Homo sapiens: one gene and its partners. The protein of the gene in region 3 purifies or fractionates together with the protein of the main gene of each other region. This does not show direct contact. Each region holds a gene or a part of one and is shown on either strand. Other genes may lie near its edges.

Region 1 (3,528 bases), on a different chromosome or scaffold from region 3:
GCAACATGTGACCTTAGAAGGAGGCACATGTGAGACGAAGTCTTTAATTCAGGCATGCATTCATTCATTGAGTGCCAAGTGACAGGTATTTTATGGTGATGCCATACTCAGAGCTTGCAGTCTAGCTAGCAATACCAATTTCATTTTACTGAGAGCTTATGATGTGCCCAGCACTGCACTGAATGCTGAATTGAGTCACACACAACCCCCTAAGCAACGGGATGAAGCAGGAGCACGTTTCTCTCCGTGTAACCGGTAAAGATACTGATGCTAAGAGAAGCTAAGGAGCTGGCCCAAGAAACCCAGCCAGCACGTGGCAAGGCCCACGCAGAATCCAGCCCAAGCCCCTGGACCCAGCCACCACTCCGCTGCCTGCACTCAGGTGGGCCTGGCTTATGACAAATATCACCTTTCCCTGTTCCCGCATTAGGACCTCACTGAGACCTTGAAGTCTGAGCTCAGTGGCAAGTTTGAGAGGCTCATTGTGGCCCTTATGTACCCGCCATACAGATACGAAGCCAAGGAGCTGCATGACGCCATGAAGGTAACCAGGCAGACAGGGCAGGGGAGTGGCAGGGGTGCTCACATGACTGGGTAGGGGCAATGCGGGGACCGGGAACCTACAGCCCAGAGCTCCCCTTGAGCCACTGTTTGGAATGGCCATATGGGCCATAACTGGGCCCAGTGAGCAGGCAGCCTGCTGCTCAGACTGCACCCAACACCTGGAGTCACTGGTGCCTGATTGACACGTTGAGTGGCCGTGATGAAGCCAAAATCAGTACTTCTCAGAACCTCACGAGCTCAGGTGTACAGTGGTATTGGAAACCCACCTCTACAGTCCCAGGCACAGCCCCTTGGGTTTCCCTTTACCTCTCACTACTCTTTGCTTTTGCAGATTAATAAGGATGGGGACCCAGTAACTATAGTCATTTTGTTTGGAAAGACACTTGCTGCATGGGCACTGCCAGGCATTTTACACCCACGCTCCCTAATCTATCTTTGGCGCAGGGGAGGCTTCTTATTCCTGTTTATGGATCGGGATGCTTAGGCTCCAGGACATGGAGCAGCCTGTCTGAGACCACCCAGCTAAGGAGGGAGAGCTGAGACAGGGCTTCCCCGTCACAGCACTTGCCCTCAATGTTCATCACTGAAGCATGTGATTTTCTCATCACATCCTCCCACTTCAAGTGGGGCAGGGCAGTGAGGTCCTTCCTGAGGCTCAGGCATCTTGAGAAAAGAAGGTGTGGACAGAGCAGAAGGTCATGGCAGAGCACTCCAGCAGGCAGAGGTTTCTGTCCACAGGGCTTAGGAACCAAGGAGGGTGTCATCATTGAGATCCTGGCCTCTCGGACCAAGAACCAGCTGCGGGAGATAATGAAGGCGTATGAGGAAGGTAAGGGGTGGCACAGATGGAGGGGCTCAGGAGTGGCCACAAGCTTTGGCAGCCTGGCAGGGAACAAGGATCAAGAATTAACCTGGGCCACACTAGAAAGGACCCTTTGGGGACTTTTTTACCCACAGGTGCTGAGCACCTACCGTATGCCAAGATCTGTGCCTGATGGTGACACTGAACATGATTCAGACTTGATCTGTAAGCTCACCAGCTCCTCTTACAGGGGAGAGAGGCCTGTGACCAACTAAAATCTCTGCCCTTGAGGACTGTGGTAGTAGGGGGTGTGGACCCCAGGCTAGCAGAGGCCAGTCAGTCCTCCACATCATGTACCTAGTGGGGAGTTTTCCTGGAGGCTTTGGCTTTGCCAAGCCTTGAGATGAAATGGAGCTTGGTTGGCAGCCCCTAGCCTGGCTCTCTGACCTGGTCCATCTTGTGCTTTGAGCTTGGTTGGGTACGCATGTCGCTTCTAGTTGTGAAGCACCACCCAGGCGACAGCCACTTGGACACCCGGGCATTGCATCCATGCCCTGTGCCAAGGACTTTCTTTCCTAGAAGGCTTTAATAAGGAGAAGTATGGGGAACAGGGCTGGAAGGAGGAAAGCAGGCCCCGGGTAGGCTGTGGGCCTCTGCTTGTGCCTCATGGTCCTGTTTCCCTGCAGACTATGGGTCCAGCCTGGAGGAGGACATCCAAGCAGACACAAGTGGCTACCTGGAGAGGATCCTGGTGTGCCTCCTGCAGGTGTCACAGCCTAGGCTCTTGGGAGTGCCTTGGTTTGGGAGTCCCAACAGCTCCACCCCAGGGAGCAGCCCTTGAATAGCGCCACAAGAGTCAGGGTAGGGGCATGGGATAGCCCAGCAGCCAGGGCTCATTGGGTGTGTCTCAGCATGGTTAGAGGGTCCCAACTGCAGAGCCCCCACACCTGTCCTTACTCAGCCATGTGAGAGCATCCTGGAAGCGGGAGGAGAGCAGGTCCTTCGTGCAGGCCTCATGCCAGGCACTTTGCTTACCTTAGCTCACTGAATCCGCCAAGCCTTATGAGGCAGTCCTTACCACCCCCATTGTACAAATGAGGAAACCAAGGGCTGAAGAGAATAACTGGCTTGTCGAAGTTTCCACAGCCAAAGAGCAGCAGAGCCATGCCTGCCCTCCAAGCCCAGGATCCCCCCTGTGCCCTTAATGCTCTGGTCAGCTGGCCTGCCTTACAGAGCCACCTCCTCTGTTCCTAGGGCAGCAGGGATGATGTGAGCAGCTTTGTGGACCCAGGACTGGCCCTCCAAGACGCACAGGTGAGGCTGCGCCCAGCCGGCCATGTGGCCCCACCCCCTGCCATCTGGACTCCGGCTCCTCTGCCCACGGGGGCTTTCTCTGACACTGGGCTGGGACCCACCCAGCTCAGCTCCCTATAGGCCTTTGTCCTGTGGTGTCTGGGGAGGAGAGTGAGGGTGTTGGGAGACTCGGGAGGAAGGAGTGTGACTTGGGGGTGGGGGAGCACTAAAGCTCTGTCCTGGCAGGAACAGCCCATGAACCCGGGGGCGCTAGGCCCCAGTGCTGGACACAGGTGTCCGGGTCTCTGTAGGTCTGCCTGCTGGCAGAGGGAAGTCTGGGGACCAGGCAGTTCCTAGAGCAGCTTGTGGCCCAGGATAGAGAAAATATTCTAAGCCAGAGCTGCTAGAGAAAGGGGAGCTCCCTGTCAGAGACGACCAAGCAGGGGAGCATGCTGGCCTGGCAGAGTGGACAGGGCCAGGCCATGGCCACAGCTCTGGGACTCTGGGGCTCAGTCCCTCACCTCCCTGGTCTCCCTCACTGGCTTATTGTGGGTGTCCCAATGCTAGGATCTGTATGCGGCAGGCGAGAAGATTCGTGGGACTGATGAGATGAAATTCATCACCATCCTGTGCACGCGCAGTGCCACTCACCTGCTGAGAGGTACCAGGGAGGGAGGGGCTGGGGCCGGGGCCACAGGGGGTGTCCTGGCCATGAGCCTCTCCCTCGTGCTTCTGCCTTGTCAAGTCTAGAGTTAGGGAGAGAGCCAGGGAGCCCAGGACTGTTTCCCCAGCCACCAGTGGGAGGTCAGGGCGGCAAATTGATGTGCGATCTCTGATCCGAGACACTGAGGGGCATCACGAGGAGGTCT
Region 2 (3,528 bases), on a different chromosome or scaffold from region 3:
AAGCTCCTGCACTTCAGACTCTTCCAGACTTCGCCCTATATGTCTCTTCACCTGGCTGTTTATTTGTATCCTTTAAAATATCCTTTATAATAATATATAGGAAACGTAAGTGTTTCTCTGAGTTATGTGAGCTGTTCTAGCAATTAATCAAGCCTAAAGAGGGGTTCGTGGGAACCCCAACTTGAAGGTGGTTACTCAGAAGTTCAGGGGCCTGGTCTTGCAATTGGCTGCTGCCTTGTGCTCACTGGGAACTATGCATCTCTAGGGGATTTGTCTCAGCTTCCCTGCCCTTCTCCTGGCCTGTGGGCTGCATCAGTCATGCAGTTAGTGAGGGCCCCCTGTGCCTCAAGGGATGCCTCTCAGCTCCTCTGTCCTGATCCATGCCTTCAGCCAACTGCTGCCTTTCACTCTGTGAGAGCCCTGTGCACATCTCAAGGAATTTCTCTGAGCCCTCTGCCTGCCCCAGCCTTTGGCATACTTCCCCCATGCACTCGGTGAAGACCTCACGGCAAAGAATTGCCTGGTGGATTATAGCTTACTAAGACTAGGGCTTACTCCTTGGGATTCTAACTCTTTATGCTAGCCCTTGTCTGCTATTGGTATAAAAGCTTGTCTCTTTTCTCTTTGTCCCCTTCAATAGCCTGTTTTCTCCCCTTCTACTGTGGTCCTAGGGATACACGCAGCCATGGGTCTCTTCTCTCATAGGAAGGGCTTGCCCATTTCTGGAATTTAGTTCATTTAGATTTCTTGGCATCCTCAACTCATGTTTACAAATTATTAATTTTGCATCTAAGCCAACTTATTGTTGCGACTGCCTACAATCTGACTGGAAGCAGGAAGACTTTGCCTCTTGTTTCTTTTAAAAAAAATATTAATTACTTATTATTTTCTCTTAATAAAATAGTAAAACTTTTCATAGAAAATATTTGAATAATGTGTAAAACATAAAAGAGAGGAGAAAAAAAATCTTACAAATTCTAACCAATCAGAAAGAAACACTGTTAGTACTTCATGTACTTCACATATTTCTTGAAGTTGTTATTGTTATGACTTTAAGAGATGGCATCTCCCTATGTTGCCCAGGCTGATCTTGAACTCCCACCCCAGCCTCCCAAGTAGCTGCAACTACAGACACAGGCCACTATGCCCAGCTAGTACTTCATCTATTTCATTTCATTCTATTTCTGTGAAGCATTGCCTATTATTTTAAGCATCTGCATTCTCAATTTATATACAAGTTTATTCCTGAATTTTTTGTGTGACAAAATAATTGCCCAAGGCTGCAAACTCTTTATAAAATTTATATGCATATATTTGCGCTTATTTAACCAGTTCTTCATTAGAAATTTAAACTCGTTGAAACATTCATTATAATTATTTGTTCAATGAACATTTTTTCCATTCAGTTCCCCCATTCTAAATCCTTATGCTTGATTTTAGAAGTAAATTTATAAGATCAAAAAATATTATTCCTTTGAAGTTTTTAAATATATACTGCTAAATGGCTTTCCAAAAGTACATCTAGCCTTTGGATAGGAGATGTATTATATGGTAGTTTCTACAGTATGCTACTGTTTTAAATATCACACTCTAAAAAATTTAATAATCTTGTGACATCATTAGAATTCCTTCCCTTTTTTTAACTAAAATAATTACCTCATTTTGCCAAGCCAATTATATAAAAATTTAGAGAAAAAAATAGTGCTCAAAAATATCTTATTTTCCTGATAAAAATGTGGCATTTATTCTAAATTTACACTTTTTTAGTTTTTTGCCTTTCCTTCCTTATAAAAAAATTTTATTAACTATTAATAATTTATATCTCACAAATAAGTAATATCATTTTGCCCTACTGTGTGTCAAACCTTCAGGAGATATCTAGTTTTCTTATTAGACATATTTTGTTTTCTTGGGTTTTTCCAAATTATTACTTAAAGGTTGCAAACAATAGAAAACATTTTTTGTGTTTTTAATTAAGGAGATTAAATTATACTAACACAATTCTTCAAATTTTCTATTAACTTTTAAATCATTTTACATAAACTAGTATATATATTGAGTACATCAACCATCTTTAGTTATTTTTATTCTTAAAATACACAGTAATCACAGAAAATGGTTATAAGATTAGAGTTCAATATAAATAAAACCATGATTTAATTTAATGGCCATTAACAGCTCTGAAAGGTTTGCATTTTTCATCATGTAATGCAAAAATGAAGATAATCACAGAGTACACTAAGTATCAGTGAATGTTTGTTTCTATCAATGAGACTGAAATTCTTTTGAAGCATTTTAGCTTAACTGAATGTTGATGTTACTTATGTTAGTTCCATTGTAGAGTACCTAACAATCTCCTCATATTGACTTATTTTATCTAAGAAGCTTTTCAACAATTAAACAGATAACTGAAAGTCTTTCTGCCAATTCCTAAAGAACTCATTAAGGAAGAAAGTTAAGACAGGAAGTTCTATTAATGCAAAATCAAAGAAACCTTCAACTCACTACTTCTCTTGCTGCTGTTCTCCCCCCACCTCCCCAAAACATCACCAGACATAAAGAAATATGTCAAAAATTCGAAGAGTTTATGTGTGATGGACTATTCTCAGGGTTTTCATAAAGCTAATTTATCACATTAACTCTTAGCATCATATGCATATATCATCATGCATTTTTACTCACGAGGTCTAAGTGATATAAATTTAAACATGACTTTTAAACCAACTTTTATAACTTAAAAGCAACTCTCTAGAATATCCCAAAGTTTATATATGATTTCTATATTGGAAACAGCACTGATGTGAAATTGGGACATAAGGGCTCTACATTAAACCCTCTTGCCACTGAGCTATGTCACTTTGACCAACACCTAATCTCGGGTTCTCAGTTGACTCACATCTCTGAAATTAATATATTGTGCTGGAAGATTTATATGATGCCCCTTGCTCCCCTTTAATCCTAAAACTCTAATCTTTTATACGCTAATGAGATCATCTATTGGTAAATCTTATGAGGTGGAAAATACACCTCTAAAATGCAAAGGTCCTTCTGGAATATACAGATGAGATGTAGCCATTCATAGGTAACTAAGAAGAAATCATGAATCATGTTACTAACCACCTATTGGGATTTTTATTCATAATATAGCATAATATAATGCAAGTAAACAATGTAATCTAACATAATAAACATAACACACACACAGGTATAAGTATGGATGTATGTATCTCAGCCAGGTAGCTCTAGGCTATAGAAAATACCAGAATGATTGATATGCATCTGAAAAGATTGCAACATTGCTTTTATCTTTTATGATCCTTGTGTCGTGGAATAAGAGGGTTTTTATACATAATGGCTGGCAATTGAGAATTGCATTAAAATATTATTCTGCTTTCCCTTAGGAATTCACAAATAGAGAAATTCCATTACCTTTCCTATGCTGATATCTGGCTGCAGAAAGCGAAGGCAGTCTGAATAATTGGCCCATGTTTTATTTAAGCTGTGCATAAAATCCCATGTTCCATTGGG
Region 3 (3,528 bases):
AACTGCAATAGCCAGCTAGGAAAAGGAGGCTGAACTTCACAGCTAATGTAAGGGCTGGGGCTACTAGTTAATCTTAGCCTTAGGAAGGGTCTGTAAGGTCTTTAGCCAGTCTCTCTAATTTCAGGCAGGAACCATCAATGGGGCTTTAAACAATGTGGTGAGGTAGGGAGAAAAATGCCCAGAAAAACAGCTATAAAACCAATTTCTACAGATGGCAGCATCCATGACTTGGAAAGAACCATAATGATGCTGAAACTATACAAGTGATTCACTGGAGAAAATAACTGGGACAGGCATCAGAAGAAATGCTTAAGGCTTCAGATGCCAACATATAAATATGAGGCAAGGGTAATGAAGTGAAAATTGAGATTGTAATACTGAGTGGTAGATACAGTATCAGAGGAATTAGCTATAAGATTGTAGTTGTTGGGCTGGGAACCCAAGAATGGTTGGGGCTAGCTTGCTTGCTTTGCTTATTTATATTTCAAATGGTATTCTTAGGAGGAGAGGCAGAGTAGCACTACTGGCCAAGAAACATACATCTATGTGGAAACGCATGAGTTTGGGATAGAAACATGCTAAGAGCTTGTGAGTGAAGGAAAAAGGAGAGAGCAATAGAAGTGCTAATGGTTGGGGAGTACAGAACAGACTGCTCAGCTCGATGGAAGATATAGATGATGCATCCTTGTCACAACACAATACACATACAGAAGCAAGAAAGTGTGGTGATGGGGGTGTCAACCATCCAGATATCCACTAGAAGTCTCATTTGGTTAGAAGTAGGGCACCCAACAGGTTCTTGACTTACTTTGGTAACAATTTTATCTCCCAGATGGTAGAGGAAGCAATTAGGGGAACTTCAACTCTGGACCTAATTCTGACCAAGAAGAAAAAAATAGTTGGTAAAATGAAAATTGATAGGAACATTCAGAGAGAGTCACTATGTCATTTCGGAGTTCAGGGTAATCAAAGAGGGGAAGGTGGACTTCAAAAAATTCAAAGAAAAGAGGCATGATTCAATGGCATGAGATTCAGAAGGAAAAATGGTTTAAGAGGGTTGAGCAGCTTCCAAATGTTCAACTGTAACTGCAATCACAAATGATCCTCTCAGGAAGAAAAGAGGGGTGGCACTTAAGTAACCAACACGGCTTCACAGAGATTTCTCCCAGGTCAGATTTTTAAAGGACATATTTTAAAAGATGGAAAGAGGGCATGTAATGATGGTCTATAAGAGAGTGGAATGAGCTTATAAGAATAATGTCAGGAGAGCTACAATTCCAAATTAGCTGAAGCTTGCAAAAATAACAATAATAATAATAATAATAAAACAAAATAAAATACTAAAGACAACCATTTATTCCCTATTTTAAAATTATATTTAAGGCCCTATCACCGTCCCCATGTCACAAAGGCAAATAAGTAAAAAAAAAAGACAAACAACATAATAACATCAAAACAAGGAAGGTTTATTGTTAAAAGCAGTAGATAATAAAGAAAAAGCAAAACTCTCTCCCTCCTATTTTGTTCCTGGCTTCTCTATCAAGGAGAATGACTGTCAGACTGAAAAAGGGAGAAGAAATTAAACTCTAAAATGGGTAAAAAGATGTAAGATAGCAAATAATTGATCCATTCTAAATGAATTACTGGACTGGATGGGCAAATCCCAGGAAACCGAAAGACCTTGTAGGCAGGCCATGGAATTGCTCTCTGTGGATAGTTGAGGAATCACAAAGAATGGAGAGGTGCTAGAAGATGAGATGATAAATGTAGCATAAATTTTCAAAAAGGGGAAGAAGGCAGACTTCCCAAACTACAGAACACAGTGATTTGGAAAGATATTCTAATGGATTATTAAAGGAATGGTCTCCAAGCACTTTAAAAAGAAAGTAGTGACGACTAGAAGCCAGCTTATATTCACTAAGAATAAATAAATCAGATTGTGCTAGCTTAATTTACTGTAATAGATTTACTATAAATTTAAGATCCGCAGCTACGATTGGCATTCTTAAGATCCAAATGGAGAAATATGAGCTGAGTCACAGTGTAACTGGGTGGCTTAGTAATTGAGTGAACAATACAAAAGATGGTGATTCATGAAGACATGAACCTGGAGGGTAGTTTCTATGTCATGTCACAGGGCTCTATTCCTGGCCTTCATATTTTTCTCAGAAATATGGATGACACACAGAAGGCAGGCATATCGAATTTGTAGATGACAAGAAACTGGAAAATAAATATGTTGCATGACAGAATCAGAAACCGTAGATCAACTGGTTACAATGGCAGGATTTTCAACTCTCACGACAATCTTTTTTTTTTTTCCCTAAGATCTCTGAAGAAGATTCTGTAACCTTCTTCAGAAAAATCATAAAATAGTTTAACAATGACCACTTGGCAAGGATAGTGTTGAGGTGATTCAAGCACCAGATGGGTGGTTCAGCTAAGTGACCTTTAAGGTCTCTGCCAACCCTGAGTTTTTATGACTCCAACTTTAAGAATCTTTCTCATTTTCTGAGATCTCCAGAAGAGATTTCCCAGCCTTCCTTGGTAACCCACAGAATGTTTAACAACACTCAAGACAGCATTTCCTCTTATCTTTGTCTTAATCTTGAAGTATTTTCTAAAATTTTTTTTTTAAACCTTATGTTGTTATCATGTTTTCCCCACTAGCAGAAGTTCTACTAGAAAATGTTCTAGTGCAGATGAGCATTCTACATCTGGAAAATTTTCCCTGTCAGAATGTTTTAGATATGTAAAGAATTGTATTTATTTTATATCCTCACAATATCCTAGGGATAGCCCTTCAAGAAATTAATTTAGGATCACAGCAAAGCCATTGAATTCATAAAATGACTAAAACCACCTCCACATGGTGGCTGTCCTTCATTTAAAAAAAAAACTTTTTTAAATAGAGTAATAACTCCCCAAATAATCCTCCAGTTCAAATGCAGTTTAATTTAAGTATCCTATCAATGGCAACTGAATATATTCAGCAAAGGATGAGATTTCCTTTTTAACAGCAAGATTTTCCCCCACTTACTCATTTATCTCCAAGGCTTCATGAGCTGCAGAAATCCTAGCTTGGGGGTTTCTCTCTCTCCAGGCTTTCTGCATTACTATTTAAGAAAAAGAGAAAACACCAAGTCAATCCATACATATAATTAGGTAGACTCAGTAGAGGACAAGAGCTAAATTAGGAGTGTCAGCTTAAATTACAAGAACATATTTCATTGCTAAGAGGGTTGGCCAAAATCTCCAAAGTCATATTAGTGTATTAATGTGCTATTCCACAGTATTTCAACTGCTGATAGCAAACCTTTTTTGTGCTCACAAAACTACAGGCTAAGGAAATCAAGAAAAGGCACTCTAACAGAGATTTTGCGTGTCTTTTGCACATTAATGTCATTTGTTCTTGGAGAATATATTTTATGCATTTTGAGATGACATTGCTACCAACCTTTTCATTCACTTAGATACAACATAATTGGTCATTTTCCGAAGCACTTAACACAGACTCTTGGTGTTAGA
Region 4 (3,528 bases), on a different chromosome or scaffold from region 3:
GAGTAGCTAGGACTATAGGTGCACACCACCACACCCAACTAATTTTTTTTTTTTTTTTTAAGCTTTTTGGAGGCAGCTTCCTGAGTAGCTGGGATTACAGGGATTACAGACAGAGCCACAAAGACCTGGCCATTGGGGTTTTATTATATTTGCTTTCTGAATGGGTATTATATGCATATAGTGCAAAATTCAAAAGGTGCAAAAGGGTATACACTAAAAAGAAAATCTCCCCTCACCCTTTCCATCCCTCCCTGCTCCCTCCCCAACTCCTGCTCCCTCCCCAACTCCTGCTCCCTCATTCTTCTCTCCTGATGCAACCACCATTAGCAGTTTTTTTGGGTGGTCTTCCTGGGTCATTCTGTACACATACAAGCATATATACCTACCGCCTCCATCCCTTTTTAAAAAATTCATAGTATATACACTGTTCCCTTGTGTGTTTTTTTTCAAGTAACAGTGTATTTTGGAGATGCACACTGCATGAAGTTCTACCTTATTTATTTATTTATTTATTTACTTACTTACTTACTTACTTACTTTGAGACAGAATCTCGCTCTGTCACTCAGGCTGGAGTGTAGTAGTGCGATCGTGGCTCACTGCAACCTCCCCCTCCCAGCTTCAAGTGATTCTCCTGCCTCAATCTCCCTAGTAGCTGGGATTACGGGCACATGCCACCAGGCTTGGCTAATTTTTGTATTTTTGGTAGAGATGGGGTTTCCCCATGTTAGCCAGGCTGGTCTTGAATTCCTGACCTCAAGTGATCCTCCTGCCTTGGCCTCCCAAAGTGTTGGGATTACAGGCGTCAGCCACGCCGTGCGCAGCCTACCTTATTCTTTTAAATGATGCATACAATTGCATTTCATGGCCGGGCGCGGTGGCTCACGCCTGTAATCCCAGCACTTTGGGAGGCTGAGGCAGGTGGATCACGAGGTCAGGTGTTCAAGACCAGCCTGGCCAAGATGGTGGAACCCTGTCTCTACTAAAAATATAAAAATTAGCCAGGTGCAGTGGTGGGCACCTGTAATCCCAGCTACCTGGGAGGCTGAGGCAGGAGAATTGTTTGAACCCGGGAGGCGGAGGTTGCAGAGAGCCGAGATCGTGCCACTGTACTCTAGCCTGGGTGACAGAGCAAGACTCTGTCTCAAAAAAAAAAAAAAAAGAAAAGATTGCATTTCATGGATGTGAAACAGTTTTTTAGCAATATATCTCAGGAACTTTGCCTTCCTGTGCCATGTTTGTTTCAGGAACAGTTCATATCAGAACTGTGTCTCCCTGAGAAAGCTGCATGCACACGAACCCAGGCCATCGGTGATAGTCATCTTGTGCTCTTATCCTCACAGCTGATACATACTGAGCACTCATCTCTTATTTTGAGAAAAATTCACATAAAATTTACTGTTTTAACCATTTAAAGTGCACATTTCAGCCAGATGCGGTAGCTCACACCTGTAATCCCAGCACTTTGGGAGGCCAAGGCGGGTGGATTGCTTGAGGTCAGGGATTCGAGACTAGGCTGGCCAACATGGTGAAACCCCATCTCTACTGAAAATACAAAAATTAGCCGGGGGTGGTGGTGCGTGCCTGTAGTCCCAGCTATTCGGGAGGCTGAGGCAAGAGAATCACTTGAACTGGAAGGCAGAGTTTGCAGTGAGCTGAGATTGCACCACTGCACTCCAGCCTGGGCAACAGAGTGAGACTCCGTCTCAACAAAAAACATAAATAAATAAATAAATAAAGTGCACATTTCAGGGTTTTTTTTTTTTTTTTAGCATATTGACAATGTTCTTCAACCATCTCCATTCTCTAATTCAGAATATTTTCATCACTCCAAAAAGAAACCACATAACCATTAAACAGTCACTTCTTATTCTCTCCCCAATGTTGCCCTTGGCAACCACTGATCTACTTTCTGCTTCTCTGGATTTGCGTATTCTGGACTTATAAATGTATACGTGGTCTTTTACACTTAACCTTGTTACACTTTGCATAATGTTTCTGAGGTTCATCCATGTTGTAGCATATATCACAACTTCAGTTTTTTAAATAACTGGATGATATTCCATAAATATACTGTACAATGTTTATCTATTCATCAACTGATGGACATTTATTGGGTTGTTACCATGTATATATAAACCTTTTTTTTTTTTTTTTTTTGAGATTGAGTCTTGCTCTGTTGCCCAGGCTGGAATGCAGTGGTGCAATCTCGGCTCACTGCAACCTCTGCTTCCCAGGTTCAAGTGATTCTCGTGCCTCAGTCTCCTGAGTAGCTGGGACTACAGGCGCATGCCACCATGCCCAACTAATTTTTCTGTTTTTAGTAGAGACGGGGTTTCGCCGTGTTGCCCAGGTTGGTCTTGAACTCCTGGGCTCAAGAAATCCACCTGCCTTGGCCTCCCAAAGTGTTGGGATTACAGGCGTGAGCCACCACCCCAGCCTCCATGTATAAACATTTTTATCAGATTCTTAAAAAGTATTTATTTACTTTTTTTTTTTTTTTTTTTGAGACAGAGTCTTGCTCTGCCACCCAGGCTGGAATGCAGTGGCATGATCTTGGCTCACTGCAACCTCCGCCTCCTGGGTTCAAGCAATTCTCTGCCTCAGCCTCCCGAGTAGCTGGGATTACAGGCGCCTGCCACCATGCCTGGTTAATTTTTGTATTTTTACTAGAGACGGGGTTTCACCCTCTTGGCCAGCCTGGTCTTGAACTCTCCTGACCTTGTGATCTGCCAACCTCTGCCTCCCGAAGTGCTAGGATTACAGGCCTGAGCCACCGTGCCTGGCCACTTTTTTTTTTTTTTAGATGGAGTCTCACTCTGTCACCCAGGCTGGAGTGCAGTGGCATGATTTCGGTTCGCTGCAACTTCTGCCTCCCAGGTTCAAGTGATTCTCTGGCCTCAGCCTCCTGTGTAGCTGGGATTACAGGTGCACGCCACCAAGTCTGGCTAATTTTTATATTTTTAGTAGAGACAGGGTTTCACCATATTGGTCATGCTGGTCTTGAACTCCTGGCCTCAAGTGATCTGCCTGCCTTGGCCTCCCAAAGTGCTGAGATTACAGGTGTGAGCCACTGTGCCCAGCCTGTTGTTTTCTCTCTTGAGACAGAGTCTCACTTTATCACCCAGGCTGGGGTGTAGTGGCTCGTCTCAACTCACTGCAACCTCCACCTCCCAGGTTCAAGTAATTCTTGTGCCTTAGCCTCCTGAGTAGCTGGGATTATTGAGGTGCGTGTCACCACACCCAGCTAACTTTTTTTATTTTTGGTAGAGACAGGGTTTTGCTATGTTGGCCAGGCTGGTCTCGAACTCCTGGCCTCAAGTGATTCTCCCGCCTCCACCTCCCACGGTGCTGGGATTACAGGCGTGAGCCAGTGCTCCTAGCCAGGACTTTTTTTATATACAAAGAAGAAATGTCAGGGAGTGCCTGTTTAAAGTAGAAATAGTTATATATGCAGTAGGAATTGTTCATTTAAAATACAAGCATCTCCATCCTACCACATTTAGGAGCTATGCTGAATATTGTGGGAG

Evidence for each region.
Region 1: the proteins of ST7 (region 3) and ANXA8 purify together in Homo sapiens (affinity purification with mass spectrometry; one large-scale study listed by BioGRID and IntAct). This does not show direct contact.
Region 2: the proteins of ST7 (region 3) and PTH2R purify together in Homo sapiens (co-immunoprecipitation; one large-scale study listed by IntAct). This does not show direct contact.
Region 4: the proteins of ST7 (region 3) and XRCC1 purify together in Homo sapiens (affinity purification with mass spectrometry; one large-scale study listed by BioGRID and IntAct). This does not show direct contact.

What each region holds. Positions count from the first base shown.
Region 1 is NC_000010.11:47,474,097-47,477,624, reverse strand, and holds part of ANXA8 (annexin A8), read left to right. Parts: exon of another isoform or gene 1-382; intron 383-430; coding exon 431-544; exon of another isoform or gene 545-545; intron 546-1,302; coding exon 1,303-1,393; intron 1,394-1,521; coding exon of another isoform or gene 1,522-1,559; exon of another isoform or gene 1,560-2,034; intron 2,035-2,052; coding exon 2,053-2,132; intron 2,133-2,620; coding exon 2,621-2,680; intron 2,681-3,226; coding exon 3,227-3,320; intron 3,321-3,528. UniProt on the Homo sapiens protein: This protein is an anticoagulant protein that acts as an indirect inhibitor of the thromboplastin-specific complex, which is involved in the blood coagulation cascade.
Region 2 is NC_000002.12:208,437,783-208,441,310, reverse strand, and holds part of PTH2R (parathyroid hormone 2 receptor isoform 1 precursor), read right to left. Parts: coding exon 3,430-3,528; intron 1-3,429. UniProt on the Homo sapiens protein: This is a specific receptor for parathyroid hormone. The activity of this receptor is mediated by G proteins which activate adenylyl cyclase. PTH2R may be responsible for PTH effects in a number of physiological systems.
Region 3 is NC_000007.14:117,131,473-117,135,000, reverse strand, and holds part of ST7 (suppressor of tumorigenicity 7 protein), read right to left. Parts: intron 3,117-3,528; coding exon 3,041-3,116; intron 878-3,040; coding exon 809-877; intron 1-808. UniProt on the Homo sapiens protein: May act as a tumor suppressor.
Region 4 is NC_000019.10:43,565,509-43,569,036, reverse strand, and holds part of XRCC1 (DNA repair protein XRCC1), read left to right. Parts: intron 1-3,528. UniProt on the Homo sapiens protein: Scaffold protein involved in DNA single-strand break repair by mediating the assembly of DNA break repair protein complexes. Negatively regulates ADP-ribosyltransferase activity of PARP1 during base-excision repair in order to prevent excessive PARP1 activity.